Homo sapiens: one gene and its partners. The protein of the gene in region 1 interacts with the protein of each later gene in a biochemical or structural test. Each region holds a gene or a part of one and is shown in the gene's direction. Other genes may lie near its edges.

Region 1 (3,500 bases):
ATTCATAAGAATCAGGAAACAATACATTTTTTGGCTGGCTTTTTGAGTTAAAAGTCAGTAATTTTGGAGTGAAAGGGAAGAAAGAGTTTTGTCGTGGGAGTCTCTTTGGAGTTTAGGTTTTCCATTTAGATGAGAAAAGTTTGTTACGTGATATGGATCCATGCAAGTTTGGAGAATGCTCTAGTAGACATTGGAAGCTCTTAGTTTCTATTATAATGAGAGTGAATAGACTGATTCATTTCTGTTGCCTTAGCATTGCCTTTCTACAAACTTAAACCGATTTCTAAACTTTAGCTATTGAACACACATGATCTTACATACCAAAGTGTTTTTAGCTTTACTGAGAGATATCAAATACGCTATAGCTGCAATAAAGGATATAAAAATCATTTTTTAGGCCATACGAGATGCAGAGCGTGTAAAGGAAATGAAACGAATGCATAAAGCTGTCCAGAAAGATCTGCCAAGACCATCAGAAGTAAGTGTTAGAATTTCTGGTTTAGGAAGTTTTAAGTTTCTTTTTATATGATTGCTGCGTTTTACATCATTCATAAAGACTATAAAACAAAATTTCATCTACTTTCTGGAATATAGCAAAGTAGTTCTCAAATCCAATCTTTAAAATGTTTCAGTAGTACCAGAAAGAATTTAGAAGGAAAAAAATGGAAATTGCTTTTGAAAATGTAAAACCGCTGTTTAATTCATGCTGTAACAGGTAATAACATTAATATATTATAGTGATATGTTTGGTAATTGTATTTGTTTTAAAATTTTAGGTAAATGAAACTATTCTAAGACCCTTAAATGTAGAACCGCCTTTAACAGATTTACAGAAAAGTGAAGAACTAATCAAAAAAGAAATGATCACAATGCTTCATTATGACCTTCTACATCACCCTTATGAACCATCTGGAAATAAAAAAGGCAAAACTGTAGGGTTTGGTACCAATAATTCAGAGCACATTACCTATCTGGAACATAATCCTTATGAAAAGTTCTCCAAAGAAGAGCTGAAAAAGGTATGATTGAGCTGGAATATTTCTTCTTGAGATTTAGGTAGTTGTTAGGTGCTGTGTATCATGGACAAATAATGAACTTATTTTTCCCTGTTGGTATTCATAAACAACTGAAATGTATGATTAGGAGATGCATGTTTAGATTAAGTGTTATGAAAAGGACATGCTTTAAATACCTCCATCCCCCGTGTTCAGTGTGATAGACCTTTAGCAAATAAACACCGCCAGGGTGTTTTTGGTTCATGGGTATTAATGGCTTCGTTGACAGTTGTTACAGTTGCCGTTTTCTGTATTCAGCTCTGCTATCTCTGAATAAAAATTAGATGCCTTTAGTACTTAAACATCACTTATTTAGAATAATATGAAGAGGTGAGAGAGACTAATATAAAAATGTTTATAGATTAAACCTTTTAGCTATTGAAAGGAAGGAAGTATTTTTTTTACTGAATATATTCCCCTCACATGATTTCCCCCTACTCTTTTGGATAAGGACATGAAGAAATGATTTCTTATATGAAGTCTGTATCTGGTCTTTTCTTCTACATGCATTTTATTCCTTCTGTTTTGACAGAGCAAACAACTGTGATTGTAAATAGAAATCTCCATAATTGTATAAGAAGATACAGTGGGTCTCATCGTTGGAAGCAGAGTGGTCATTAGCTTAAAAGTCTTTTTTTCTTTAGCCTTCAGCCCTGAGGAGCAGTGATAGACCTATGGATTTGGAATGAGCTGCTGTATACTTAGGATAAAACAAACAAGATTCTTACAAACTCTCCTGTCTTCTCTCCTGCATTCTTCCTCTTTCTTCGCTTTTCACAATTTCTTACTTTGTGTTTTCTTTATTGCATAAGTAATACATTATTTATTATAGGATTTTTAGAAAATAGAGAAAGGAAGGAGGGTTTCGATTTATATTTCAATAACTTGTCCCTGATTTCAGAATAACTGAGTCACTCATTTTTTAGTAAGTGCAGTAGGGAAACTAACATCTGTTGAGTTGCCTACTCTGTCGAGCACATTTAATCATTGAACTGGGATTGAGAATCAGGCTACGAAATTGATACTTGCACAGTTTCCTCTTTTGAAAGTGAAAATATGAGGGGAAGAGGAATTTAGGAAATAAATTTTCCTAAATTGTATGTATGGAAACCTAAAACAAGGATCACATTGTTGCTTTTGGAGATTCTGTAGAGGGTAAACCCTAACACAATTTTTGAAAAATAATAATTCTAAGTATTGGTTTGTAATTGTTTGAAACAAAGTAGCTTAAATATTCTCTCATATTTTATCTGTGTATATCTCTCTTTGTTCCAAAAAGAATTTGAAGCAGCTATTTAGTTAGCAGATTATTTATGGATAGTTTAAAGATAACTTAGCCATATTCTCTCGTAATGATTATAAGATCTGAACTTGTAAATTTTTACTCTGTGCAGTTTCAGAGTGAAATAGCATTTCTCTTTTAATAAACTGTCAGATTTTCTTTTTCTTTAATATACTTTAAGATATGTTAACATTGATTTGTTTCCATTATTTCCCTTAAGGTATTAAGTGTCCATTTTTTCTTCTATAGAGATGATTTTCCGTTTCTTTTGTTAAAATTTTTTGTTTATCAATCATTTCTCTTGATTTTGTAGATTTTGATGTGTTTATTTTCATTATTACTGGAAAGATTGAAAGCCTTCTGTAAGGCACAGAAGGTGGTTCCCAGTTTTTCATAAGCCATGAAGCAAAGGGCTGGGAAAAAATTCATATGCTTATGGAATTCTGTGTGTCTGGCATTGGGCTAGGCTCTATAGTATATTGTTCACTTAATCCTAATAACAAACACATCTGATCTAAGGTCAGCATCATCATTGCTTGGAAAGCTGTTTTTCAGCTTTCCAGGCTGAAAAAGCCCTGAGAAATGGGCTCAGATAAATTAAGCAAGCTCAAAGAGCTGCTTCAATGGTAAAGCTGTGATCTGAACCCAGGCCTGTCCAGCTTTCCCTCTCATTCTGTCATTTTACACTATTTTCTTTAGTAGTGAACTAAACTGGTTTATGATCTATCATCTAATTCGTGCCCCAGTCTCATTATCTGGCAATGTCAGGGCATTCCTTCAGGATGAGAAAAATGCCATGTGACAAAAAGATGCCTAGCTCCCCTTTACCATCACGTGAGGTCCTGCACACATGGTGGAGTGGGAGAGTGGAAGGGGCACACCCAGTGGTGCCATTTGTATTCTGCCTCATCTGCCTACTAACGATGTGGTCTTAACAAGTGGTTGAATCTCTATGAGCCTTAGTTTCATTAGCTTTTTTTTTTTTTTTTTTTTTTTTGAGACTGAGTCTCACTCTGTTGCACAGGCTGGGGTGCAGTGGCACGATCCCAGCTCACTGCAGCCTCCACCTCCTGGGTTCAAGGGATTCTTGTGCCTCAGCCTCCTGAGTAGCTAGGATTACAGGCATGTGCCACTACGTCCTACTAATTTTTACATTTTTAGTA
Region 2 (3,500 bases), on another chromosome or scaffold:
GTGGTTGAGGAAGGCCTCTCAAAGCTAAGATGAGACTACTCCATGAGCAGGGATTGCCCTTGCCGCTCCATGAACACTGGCTTAGTCTTTGGAGAGAGATGAGCTAAAATTCCAGATTTATCACTTACTGAGCATGTGAGTTAGTTAAGGGTTCCTCCTATGCTACATGGCTCAAGACTACTTATACTGCATTTTTATACTGCCTCGTGTTTAATTGGCTGTTTACTCCTTGTCTGTCACTGCAGAATTTTCTAGCTAGAATGCCCTGGTTTTTTTTTTTGCAGGAAACTAGGTAACTACATTTTCTTAAGATTGTGTGTAATTTAGCAGTAGCCCCTGCAAAATACTTTCTGCAGAAAGAAATGCTTAATACGAAATTTTTTGTTTTTTGTTTTTTGTTTTTTTGTTTTTTTGTTTTTTTGTTTTTGAGATGAAGTCTCACTCTGTTGCCAGGCTGGAGTGCAGTGGTGTGATCTCAGCTCACTGCAACCTCCACCTCCCAGGTTCAAGCAATTCTCCTGCCTCAGCCTCCGAGTATCTGGGATTACAGGCACGTGCCATCACGCCCAGCTAATTTTTGTATTTTTAGTAGAGATGAGGTTTCAACTTGTTGGCCAGGATGGTCTTGATCTCTTGACCTCGTGATCCACCCACCTCGGCCTCCCGAAGTGCTGGGATTACAGGCATGAGCCACCTCGCCCGGCCTAATAAAAACTTTTAAACATTCATGCAGGCTTCTGTAAGGCCTTTGATACTTATTTAGTCTAATTGTTAAGATAGTTGAAACCCTCAGAAAATTAAAATTACATGGAATAACCGAAGTATTACTACAAAGAAATATTTTAAGCAGTTCTTTATCCTCAGGGTAGGAAATGTGCAGAATGGAAATGGGTTAGGACGTTGGCCCTAAAGAGGAACAGCTATACTACATTTACTTGCGAACAGTAAAATTGCTAGAGAAGATAGTGAATATAAAGAAAAGACACTTTGGGAGGCTGAGGCAGGCCGATCACCTCAGGTCAGGAGTTCGAGACCAGCCTGGCCAACATGGTGAAACCCTGTCTCTACTAAAAATACAAAAATTAGCCAGGCATAGTGGCAGATGCCTGTCATCCCAGCTACTCGGGAGGCTGAGGCAAGAGAATCGCTTGAACCCGGGAGGCAGAGATGAGCCAAGATCGCGCCATTGCGCTCCAGCCTGGGGGACAAGAGCGAGACTTCGTCTCACAAAAAAAAAATAAATAAATAAATAAATTATTTCTTGGATTTCTGGAGGCTGGAAAGTGTACGGTTCACAGGCTGCATCTGGTGAGGGCCTTCTTGCTGGTGTGGACTTGGTGTACAGTCCTGAAGCAGCACAGGGCATTACATGGCAAGGTAGGGGCACACAAGAGAAAGACAAACTGGCTTTTATAACATACCCACTCTGGTGATAACTTATTAACCCATGAATGGATTGAGCCTTCATAACCCAATCACCTCTTAAAGACCCCACCTCTTAATACTATTACATTGGGGATTAAGTTTCTGTATGAATTTCAGAGGGGACAAACATTCAAACCATAGCACTGTCGAACTGATTCTGATATGCTTCTGGAATTAAGAACCACTGGTTTAGGATTAATCCTTTTCTCTGTGGGCTCCTTAATACATGCCACTTTTCCTGAATGTGAAGTGAGTGAGTGAGTGTGTGTGTGTGTGCTTCAGATTCTAGAGAGCATTTAACTCAGAGAAGAATTAGGGAAAGGTAAACAATTCATTATAATGGGTAGTGTAGCTTAAATCTGTTCTTTGGTGATTGTTAATTTTTAGTTGTCAACATGATCTTAGAAATCTTTTTTCTGATTTACACATCAGACTGACATAATGAGAAATGAATTTGAAAGACTGGCTGCTCGACAACCAATTGAATTGCTCAGTATGAAACGGTAAGAATATTAAAATGGAAATTAAAATTTAGTTTGTAGTAACTCAGTAATGAGCTGAGATTTGTGAAGAATGTATTTGCTGGCTAATATTGGCAGTGTTGGCCGGGTGTGGTGGCTCACACCTGTAATTCCAGCACTTTGGGAGGCCGAGGCTGGTGGATTGCTTGAATCCAGGAGTTTGAGACCAGCCTGGGCAACATGGCAAAACCCCATCTCTACCAAAAATAATTAATAATAATAATAATAATAATAATAAACGTACCTGGGTGTGGTGGCACGCACCCGTGGACCCAGCTACTTGGAAAGCTGAGGTAGGTGGATCGCTTGACACCCCCCAGGAGATGGAGGTTGCAGCAAGCCGAGATTGTGCCACTGCACTCCAGCGTTGGGGACAGAGGGAGACCCAGTCTTGAAAAAAAAACTATATATATATATATATAGAGAGAGAGAGAGAGAGAGAGAGAGGCAGTGTTGAAGGACTGACTGGGTAGTATGAAGAGAGAATAGAAGGAGTCATATCGCTTCTCATTTTTTTCTCTACCGGCGCATGGGTATGTTAGTGGATGGGTGGGTGTGAGTATTTTACAAAAATGGTAGCAAACTTTTTTGTCTACTGCTTTTTCCCCTTAATATATTACTGACATCTTAATATTATTAAATATTCTTCAGTAACATTTAATAGCTAATGTAACAATCTTTTATGTGAATGTAATGTTGCTTATTTAACCAGTTCACATTGAAGTGAACATAATGGTGCTAAATCATATTTGTAAATTGATTGTTAGCATATATCGGTTTCTTATTATTGCAAGGTTTACATCCTTAGTCTTCTGTAGTTTTTATACTATATGGAGACTCATGGGACATTCTACTGAGAAGAGATGTAAAGGCTTGGCAGTATAGATGGTTTTATTTTATTTTGTTGTTTAATTTCAGATATGAGCTTCCAGCCCCCTCCTCTGGTCAAAAAAATGACATTACTGCATGGCAAGAATGTGTAAACAATTCTATGGCCCAGTTAGAGCATCAAGCAGTTAGAATTGAGAATCTGGAACTAATGTCACAGCATGGATGTAATGCCTGGAAAGTATACAATGAGTAAGAACCTTTTTCTTCATCTTCTGTTTTTTTTGTTTTTTCTCTTTTCTTTCCATCTCACCCAAAGTTTTAGTACATTTTAAAAGTATGGGAGGTGCTGGGTGCAGTGGCTCATGCCAGTAATCCCAGCCCTTTGGGAGGCAGAGGTGGGTGGATTGCTTGAGGTCAGGAGTTCGAGACCAGCCTGGCCAACATGGTGAAACCCCATTTCTACAAAAAAAAAAAATACAAAAAATTAGCTGGGCATGGTAACGTGTGCCTGTAATCCCAGCTACTCTGGAGGCTGAGGCATGACAATTGCTTCAGCCTGGGAGGCAGAGGTTGTAGTGAGCCAAGATTTTGCCACTGCACTCCAGCCTAGGCGACAGAATGAGACTCTATCTCAAAAAAAAAAAAAAAAAAAGAAAAGAAAAAGAAAAGCCGGGCGCGGTGGTTTACACCTGTAATCCCAGCACTTCAGGAGGCCGAGGCGGG
Region 3 (3,500 bases), on another chromosome or scaffold:
GGGATTTAGCCGCTTACCTGACAGGAGAAGGCAGCTGTCTGCAGCTCAGGGTAACATCCATTCTGTTAGATGGTCTCTGTTTAAGGAACCTGTTCTTTGTGTGGTTACCCACCTTGGGATGGTATTTGGCCTTTCATCTCCGGCCAGCTCCTCTCCGCCACCACTGTGTTCCCGAGCCACTTTCTCCTTGGCCCCTTTTCCTTCATATCAATTGATGTGTGATCAAGAAGTACAATCAGTTTTCATAATAATTTAATACAAATTAATTTAGCTTCGATATTAGCAAAAGTAAAATTTCACTAAGAAGGTAAATCTACAAGAAAAAAGATAATGCCTTCTGATAAGTTGCTCTGGTTTATAAAATCTTTTGGGCCAGGCACGGTGGCTCATACCTTAATTCCAGCACTTTGGGAGGCCGAGGTGGACAATTGCTTGAGGCCAGGAGTTCAAGACCAGCCTGGCCAACATGGTGAAACCTCGTCTCTACAAAAAATACAAAAATCAGCCGGGCCTGTAGTCCCAGCTACTCGGTGCGTGCCTGTAGTCCCAGCTACTCGGGAGGCTGAGGCACGAGAATCACTTGCCAGGAGGTGGAGGTTGCAGCGAGCCAAGTTGGTACCACCACACTCCATCCTGGGTGACAAAGCAAGACTCTGTCTCAAAACAAAAAAACCACTTTTGGCTTCTGTATCAGGCATAGGAGGCCTTTTATGGAAACACTTTTGCTACCACGGTATATTGGCTGTCCGTTTCCACACTGGTACATTTCGGTGATGATCACCACGCAGCTGCTGCCTGAGAATGAGCATTAGCAGATTAAAGGACTACCCCAGACGGCCACTTTATAGCTTACGGGTTGTTGACTTTCCCAGTTTCTGATTTTAGGCCTGGGGTGGTCTGGCCACTGCCAATATGCAAGGCTAGTTTAAGAAAAGATTCTTTGGTACTTTGGCACTGATTCTCTTCACCACTGGGGGGCATCAAAGCAACTGAGATTCAAAGAAAGGTCATTCCGTTTCTTCAGTAGACTTTGGGCCAGGAGCAGTGCCTCACGCCCTGTAATCCCAGCACTTTGGGAGGCCGAGGGAGGAGGATTGTCTGAGTCCAGGAGTTTGAGATCAGCCTGGCCAACAGAGCAAGACCCCATCTCTTAAAAAAATTTTTTTTTCGAGACGGAGTTTCGGTCTTGTTGCCCAGGCTGGAGTGCAATGGCGCCATCTCGGCTCACTGCAACCTCCGCCTCCTGAGAATTGCCTACAAGTGATTCTCCTGCCTCAGCCTCCCGAGTAGCTGGGATTACAGGCACCCACCACCACGCCCGGCTAATTTTGTATTTTTAGTAGAGACGGGGTTTCACCATGTTGGCCAGGATAGTCTTGATCTCTTGACCTCGTGATCCGCCCGCCTCATCCTCCCAAAATGCTGGGGTTACAGGCATGAGCCACTGCGCCCAGCCTAAAAAAAATTTTTTTAATGGGCCTGGGCATGGAAGTCCCAGTTACTTAGCAGGGCAAAGGTGGGAGGATCACTGAGCTCAGGGGGTCAAAGCTGCCTTGAGCCATGATTGCATCATTGCACTCCAGCCTGGGTGACAGAGTGAAACTCTGACACAATTTTTTTTAATTTAAATATTATAAAAAATATATAATTACGAAGATACCAGCTTCAGCCGACATGACCGTGACCTGTGTGAAAGCTGGGCGGGTGGTGGGAAACCTGTGTCTGTCGCGTAGCAGCAAGTTGCATGTGGAGAAGCAGAAGCATGTCACATCAAGCGCTCGTCATCGTTATTCGTTCACGTTTTCAGGTTTGACGCAGAAGGACAAGCCTTAGATGGTGTTTCCATCTCTGATCTAAAGAGCGGCGGAGTCGGAGGGAGTAACACCAACTGGAAAACCTTGTATGAGGTCAAATCCGAGAACCTGGGCCAAGGCGACAAGGTACCCAGCATTCCTAACCACCTTCACAAAGGGCTGTAAAGTGTGCAGAAGGATGGATTTAGAAACTTGGTTTCCAGCACCAGCTGTCAGAGCCGTAATTCTTACCCGGGGCTGTGACCTGAGCGTGGCATGGGGGTTGAGAATCACTGGCAGAGGGAAGCAGCCAGGTGTGCTCATGGGAATATGTGTTACCCCTCAGGGGACTGGAGGCAGGAGAGTCTGAAGAACTCTTAGAGTCAATTCCTAGAGGGATCTTGGAGCAGGGGTGACAGTCAAGCTTTGTGGTATAATATCACCTGCTTTCGGGTCCACGTTTCTTTCCTGTGATCCTTCCTGCAAATTTAAGCGCCCACATATCAAAAAGATGTTTTTTGAGATGAGCGTTAGTCCGCCTCAGGTCAGACATGAGGCAGTTTCACGGGTGCTGTTCCTGGCTGTAGAATAGTGTATTAACCTCATAGGCTGAGAGCTGCCGGCATTCCCGGACAAGGATTGGCCCTGACATTTGACTTTTAGTTGCAGCTTTTTCCTTTCAGTGTTTGTATTTAATGACCCTCCTCCCATCTTGATCTAAGCCTGTGTTCTGCCAGCAGTTTAGTATTTAGATCATTTATTTCTCCTTTACGCCTGCTCTTTTATTTTCATCATATACAGTGTAGGTTTCATTCCTCCTGTCTCATTTCACTGTATACCCTTATCCATCATTGTCAACAGCAGCTCTTAAGTGCTCTTATAGAACATCTCAAGAATTAAACACTGGACAGATCCTCGTTGTCCTGTCATGGGACACCCACTCTTTCGGTTCTCTGTAATCCCAGCTACCCAGGAGGCTGAGGCAGGTGGATTACATGAGCCCAGGAGTTCGACTGAGCAACATGGAAGACCCCTTCTCTTGAAACAAAAACTTTATTGCTGAAAAATGCTGACAATCATCTGAGTCGTAATCTTCTTGCTGGTGGGGGTTTGTTTCAGGGTTGATGGCTGAGCAGTCACGGCGATGGTTGCTGAACATCGGCGTGTCTTTGGCAGTTTCTTAAAATAAGACAGCAGTGAAGTGTGCCACATTGGTTGACTCTTCCTTTCACAAAAGCTTTCTCCATAGCCGGCGATGCTGTTTGACAGCATTTTACCCACAGGAGAACTTTTTCAAACTGGAGTCTCTCCCTCTCAGGTCCTGTCACTGCTTTATCAGCCAAGCTTATGCAAATTCTAAATCCTTTGTCGTCATTTCAACAATGCTCACAGCGTTCTCACCACAAGAGATTTCATCTCAAGAAAGCACTTTCCTTGCCCATCGTAAGGAGCAGCTCCTTATCCGTTCAAGTTTGATCGTGAGATTACAGCAGTTCAGGCCCATTTTCAGGCTCCATTTGTAATTCTAGTTCTCTCGTTATTTTCGTCACATCTACAGATCCCTCCTCCACCAAAGTCTTGAAGCCTCAGTGTCTACCTTGAGGGTTGGAATCAACTTGTTCCAAACTCCCGTTGATGTTGGGATTTTGATCTCCTCCCATGAATCATGAATGTTCCTTTTTTTTTTAACTTGAGACAGGGTCTCAT
Region 4 (3,500 bases), on another chromosome or scaffold:
CATTTCCCTGGATCACTTTAGTCTTTTTTTTTTTTGTAGAGAGAGTCTTGCTTTGTCGCCCAGGCTGGAGTGCAGTGGTGCGATTTTGACTTGTTGCAAGCTCTACCTCCCTGGTTATTCCCCTGCCTCAGCCTCCCAAGTAGCTGGGATTACAGGCACATGCCACCACGCCCAGCTAATTTTTTTGTATTTTTAGTAGAGGCAGGGTTTCACCATGTTGGCCAGACTGGTCTCGAACTCTTGACCCCAGGCAGTCCATCCACCTTGGCCTCCCAAAGTGCTGGGATTACAGGCATGAGCCACTGCACCCAGCCCACTTTAGTCTTTTCTTATTCTCTAACTTGTCTCTTTTTTTTTTTTAGGTGTAGTATTGAGTCCTGTTTGAGCTATTGTTCTCTTTTTCCTGAAAAATGGCACTGTCAAAGAGGGAGCTGGATGAGCTGAAACCATGGATAGAGAAGACAGTGAAGAGGGTCCTGGGTTTCTCAGAGCCTACGGTGGTCACAGCAGCATTGAACTGTGTGGGGAAGGGCATGGACAAGAAGAAGGCAGCCGGTATGTACCTTTCTGCATCTTTTATCTTAACATATAGGGTGACCCCAAACACTGCTTTGAACTTCCTCAAAATTCTCTCTGTTGGGAACATCTAAAAAAATGGCAGGCCATATTTTATTTTCACCTGTATTATAGTGAAAATAGGCTAAATAATAATTTGCTTTTTCTCTTAATTGCTTATTTTTTATGTTATTTATGATAGATTTTAAATCTTCGTTTGGCTACCATACTGAGTCACCTAAGTTAGATTTACTTAGGAAGTATGCTTAAGTCAGATAGGCATATTCAGATTCAGACTGAACATCTCAACATACAAAAATCTTTATGAAATACATGAAAAAGCTTGAAGGAGGTAGATTTTGTTAATGGTAGGCTTCTACAACTTGCTATTTGGGAAAGGTGAGGGTGGTTATTCATCTCAAACTTGATGTTCAAGGTAAACAGGTTGCTCTAACTGCACCACTTCCCACGCCAAAAAATTATAACTATTTTCACCTCACAGGGCAAGGTCATTTAGTGTAAGAGAGATGGGAATCCTACAAAAAACTTAAAATTTGTTTCACTCCTGGGAATAAAATTCCAGTGTTGGTACCTGTTATAGGCCTAGTATTAGACTGTGTACTCTTACCTTTCCAACCCTACCACCGCCTTTCTTCCTGTCAGATCATCTGAAACCTTTTCTTGATGATTCTACTCTCCGATTTGTGGACAAACTGTTTGAGGCTGTGGAGGAAGGCCGAAGCTCTAGGCATTCCAAGTCTAGCAGTGACAGGAGCAGAAAACGAGAGCTAAAGGTAGGTTACAATTTACTGTCTAATGAGCTCAGGACTGTTTTGAATGGTAACAGAGTTGCTGAGCTTACCAGTTCACACGTTGATATCCTCTATTTAGAGCAGCAAATGTTCAAGAGAGGTACTTAGACATTAGAGTAGGAGAGATGAATTAGTGTCATCACCATCTGAACTACCTCTAAGTTCATGGGTTGAAATATCCAAAGAAATAATTGGCAGCTTTGTCTTTTTTTAGATAACAGGAGTTTTGATTCTCATGTTTCTCCATATTTCCTTTTTTTCCTTCTTACTGTTACTTATAAACTGATTGCTCTAAGATTTTATCTTTGATTTATTTGAGGCCTAATAAGTTGTTTTAGAATGTGACTCCACTGGTACCTGAGCTGTACACCTCATTGTTGCCTCTTTGTAGAGGTTTCTCTGCAATGCACTTGTAGATAGAATACCAAAAAATAACTATTATTTATTATATTCTTGAGAGCTTACCATTTGCTCTATGGCATATTGCTGGTCCTCTGCTGCCATGAGTGAAACACTTGGAGGAGTTGTCAGTACCCCCTTAACTACTACACTTTTTATTCTGTAGTTGCCGACTGATCCTGGCCTCTTTCAGTATTAGCAGTATCAAGTAGCCTATTTTTCTACTCATTTCCCAGTATCTCTCTTTAGGAGAAAAAAAAAAGTTCTGTGACTCCTATCAAACCTTCCAAAGTTCTTCTGATACCTTGGCTATCCCATTACTTTTCCTGAGGGAAAAGAGTGAATAAGTAATGTCTGCTTGGTCCCCTGGCCAGGCTATGGAACTAAAAAAAAAAGCAGAGAGATTTGTGCCCTTTGTGTTTGGAGCATTGTAGGGTGGTCAGAGAAGGAGAGATAGTCCTTGCCTTAAAACAATTTGTAATTTGTCAGGCAGTGTGGCATGTGCCTGTAATCCTAGCTACTTGGGAAGCTGAGGCAAGAGGATCTCTTGAGCCCAGGAGTTACAATTTAGAAGAGGCAGGGGTATCACAAAATATATATTCACGTATTATAAAATCTAAGTAGCAGTTTCATGTAAATTTTAGGGTTGGTTATAGAATTTCAGACCTATGTTGAATTTTGTTATATTTAAGGTGGAATGATTGATCCACAGTATACACAGATCTGTACAGTGAAGATTATGTCACGATAGGGCATACTTCTTTTTTTTTTTCCTTTTTTTTTTTCTAAGGGTGAGTCTCACTCTGTCGCCCAGGCTGGAGTACAGTAGCGCAATCTTGACTCACTGCAACTTCCACCTCCCAGGTTCAAGTGATTCTCCTGCCTCAGCCTCCTGAGTAGCTGGGATTACAGGCACATGCCACCATGCCTGGCTAATTTTTGTATTTTTAGTAGAGACGGGGTTTCATCATGTTGATCAGGTTGGTCTCGAACTCCTGACCTCAAGATCTGCTCGCCTCGGCCTCCCAAAGTGCTGGAATTACAGGCATGAGCCACTGCGCCTGGCCAGTAGGGCATACTTCTGTATGAGTGCTGAGGGCATGCTGTGAATGAAGTGACTACATTGGGTGGGATTAATAAAAATGGCTTCTTGAAGGAGGTGTCTAGATAGCCTTGGGATACGGGTCCCATTTTTGGTCCATTCAGGTCCCCACCCCACACAATATATTATGGGAGAGTCCTTTTTCTTGAACTGTAGGAGTTCCAGGAAGCGCTCGCCCCTGGCCGAGGATATGTCCTTGCAAAACACGAGCCCTCCTAGTGAAGAGGGGATGTCACCCAAAGCCTACCACCGGTGTGTACATTTGCTTTTTCCCATTGTCCCTTCCAGTTGGCCACTCTCGGTCCTGTTAAATTCACCTTGCAAATTAGTCATCATATTTGAGTTTCCATTGTTTGATGAAAACAAAGTGTTAATGGGGATTACTGAAGAAGAAAGAGAAAGCCCCTGTCCTGGAAGAGCTTAGACTTAGTTGGGAAAACTATACTAACATTGAAATACTTAACACTTGGCAAACAGAATATCAACAATGTAATTTAACCTAATATGAACCAAGCTCTTACACGCTAAGAGAATGTGAAACAAAAGTTTAATCAGAGTGGGATAGGTTATAATGAGGAAAACTTCTTGGAGGAGGTGAGTTTTAGGCAGGATTTGGAACAGGGGTTGTGGAA

The links. Proteins that work in one complex are often made in the same cells at the same time.
Region 2: the proteins of CDC5L (region 1) and BCAS2 form a complex in vitro, tested with the Homo sapiens proteins (one study listed by BioGRID).
Region 3: the proteins of CDC5L (region 1) and RPA1 form a complex in vitro, tested with the Homo sapiens proteins (one study listed by BioGRID).
Region 4: the proteins of CDC5L (region 1) and PRPF3 form a complex in vitro, tested with the Homo sapiens proteins (one study listed by BioGRID).

Annotation. Positions count from the first base shown.
Region 1 is NC_000006.12:44,425,706-44,429,205, forward strand, and holds part of CDC5L (cell division cycle 5-like protein), read left to right. Parts: intron 1-397; coding exon 398-478; intron 479-776; coding exon 777-1,019; intron 1,020-3,500.
Region 2 is NC_000001.11:114,575,116-114,578,615, reverse strand, and holds part of BCAS2 (pre-mRNA-splicing factor SPF27), read left to right. Parts: intron 1-1,857; coding exon 1,858-1,928; intron 1,929-2,864; coding exon 2,865-3,026; intron 3,027-3,500. UniProt on the Homo sapiens protein: Required for pre-mRNA splicing as component of the activated spliceosome. Component of the PRP19-CDC5L complex that forms an integral part of the spliceosome and is required for activating pre-mRNA splicing.
Region 3 is NC_000017.11:1,882,005-1,885,504, forward strand, and holds part of RPA1 (replication protein A 70 kDa DNA-binding subunit), read left to right. Parts: intron 1-1,807; coding exon 1,808-1,940; intron 1,941-3,500. UniProt on the Homo sapiens protein: As part of the heterotrimeric replication protein A complex (RPA/RP-A), binds and stabilizes single-stranded DNA intermediates that form during DNA replication or upon DNA stress.
Region 4 is NC_000001.11:150,324,533-150,328,032, forward strand, and holds part of PRPF3 (U4/U6 small nuclear ribonucleoprotein Prp3), read left to right. Parts: intron 1-362; 5' UTR 363-410; coding exon 411-555; intron 556-1,218; coding exon 1,219-1,349; intron 1,350-3,024; exon of another isoform or gene 3,025-3,120; intron 3,121-3,500. UniProt on the Homo sapiens protein: Plays a role in pre-mRNA splicing as component of the U4/U6-U5 tri-snRNP complex that is involved in spliceosome assembly, and as component of the precatalytic spliceosome (spliceosome B complex).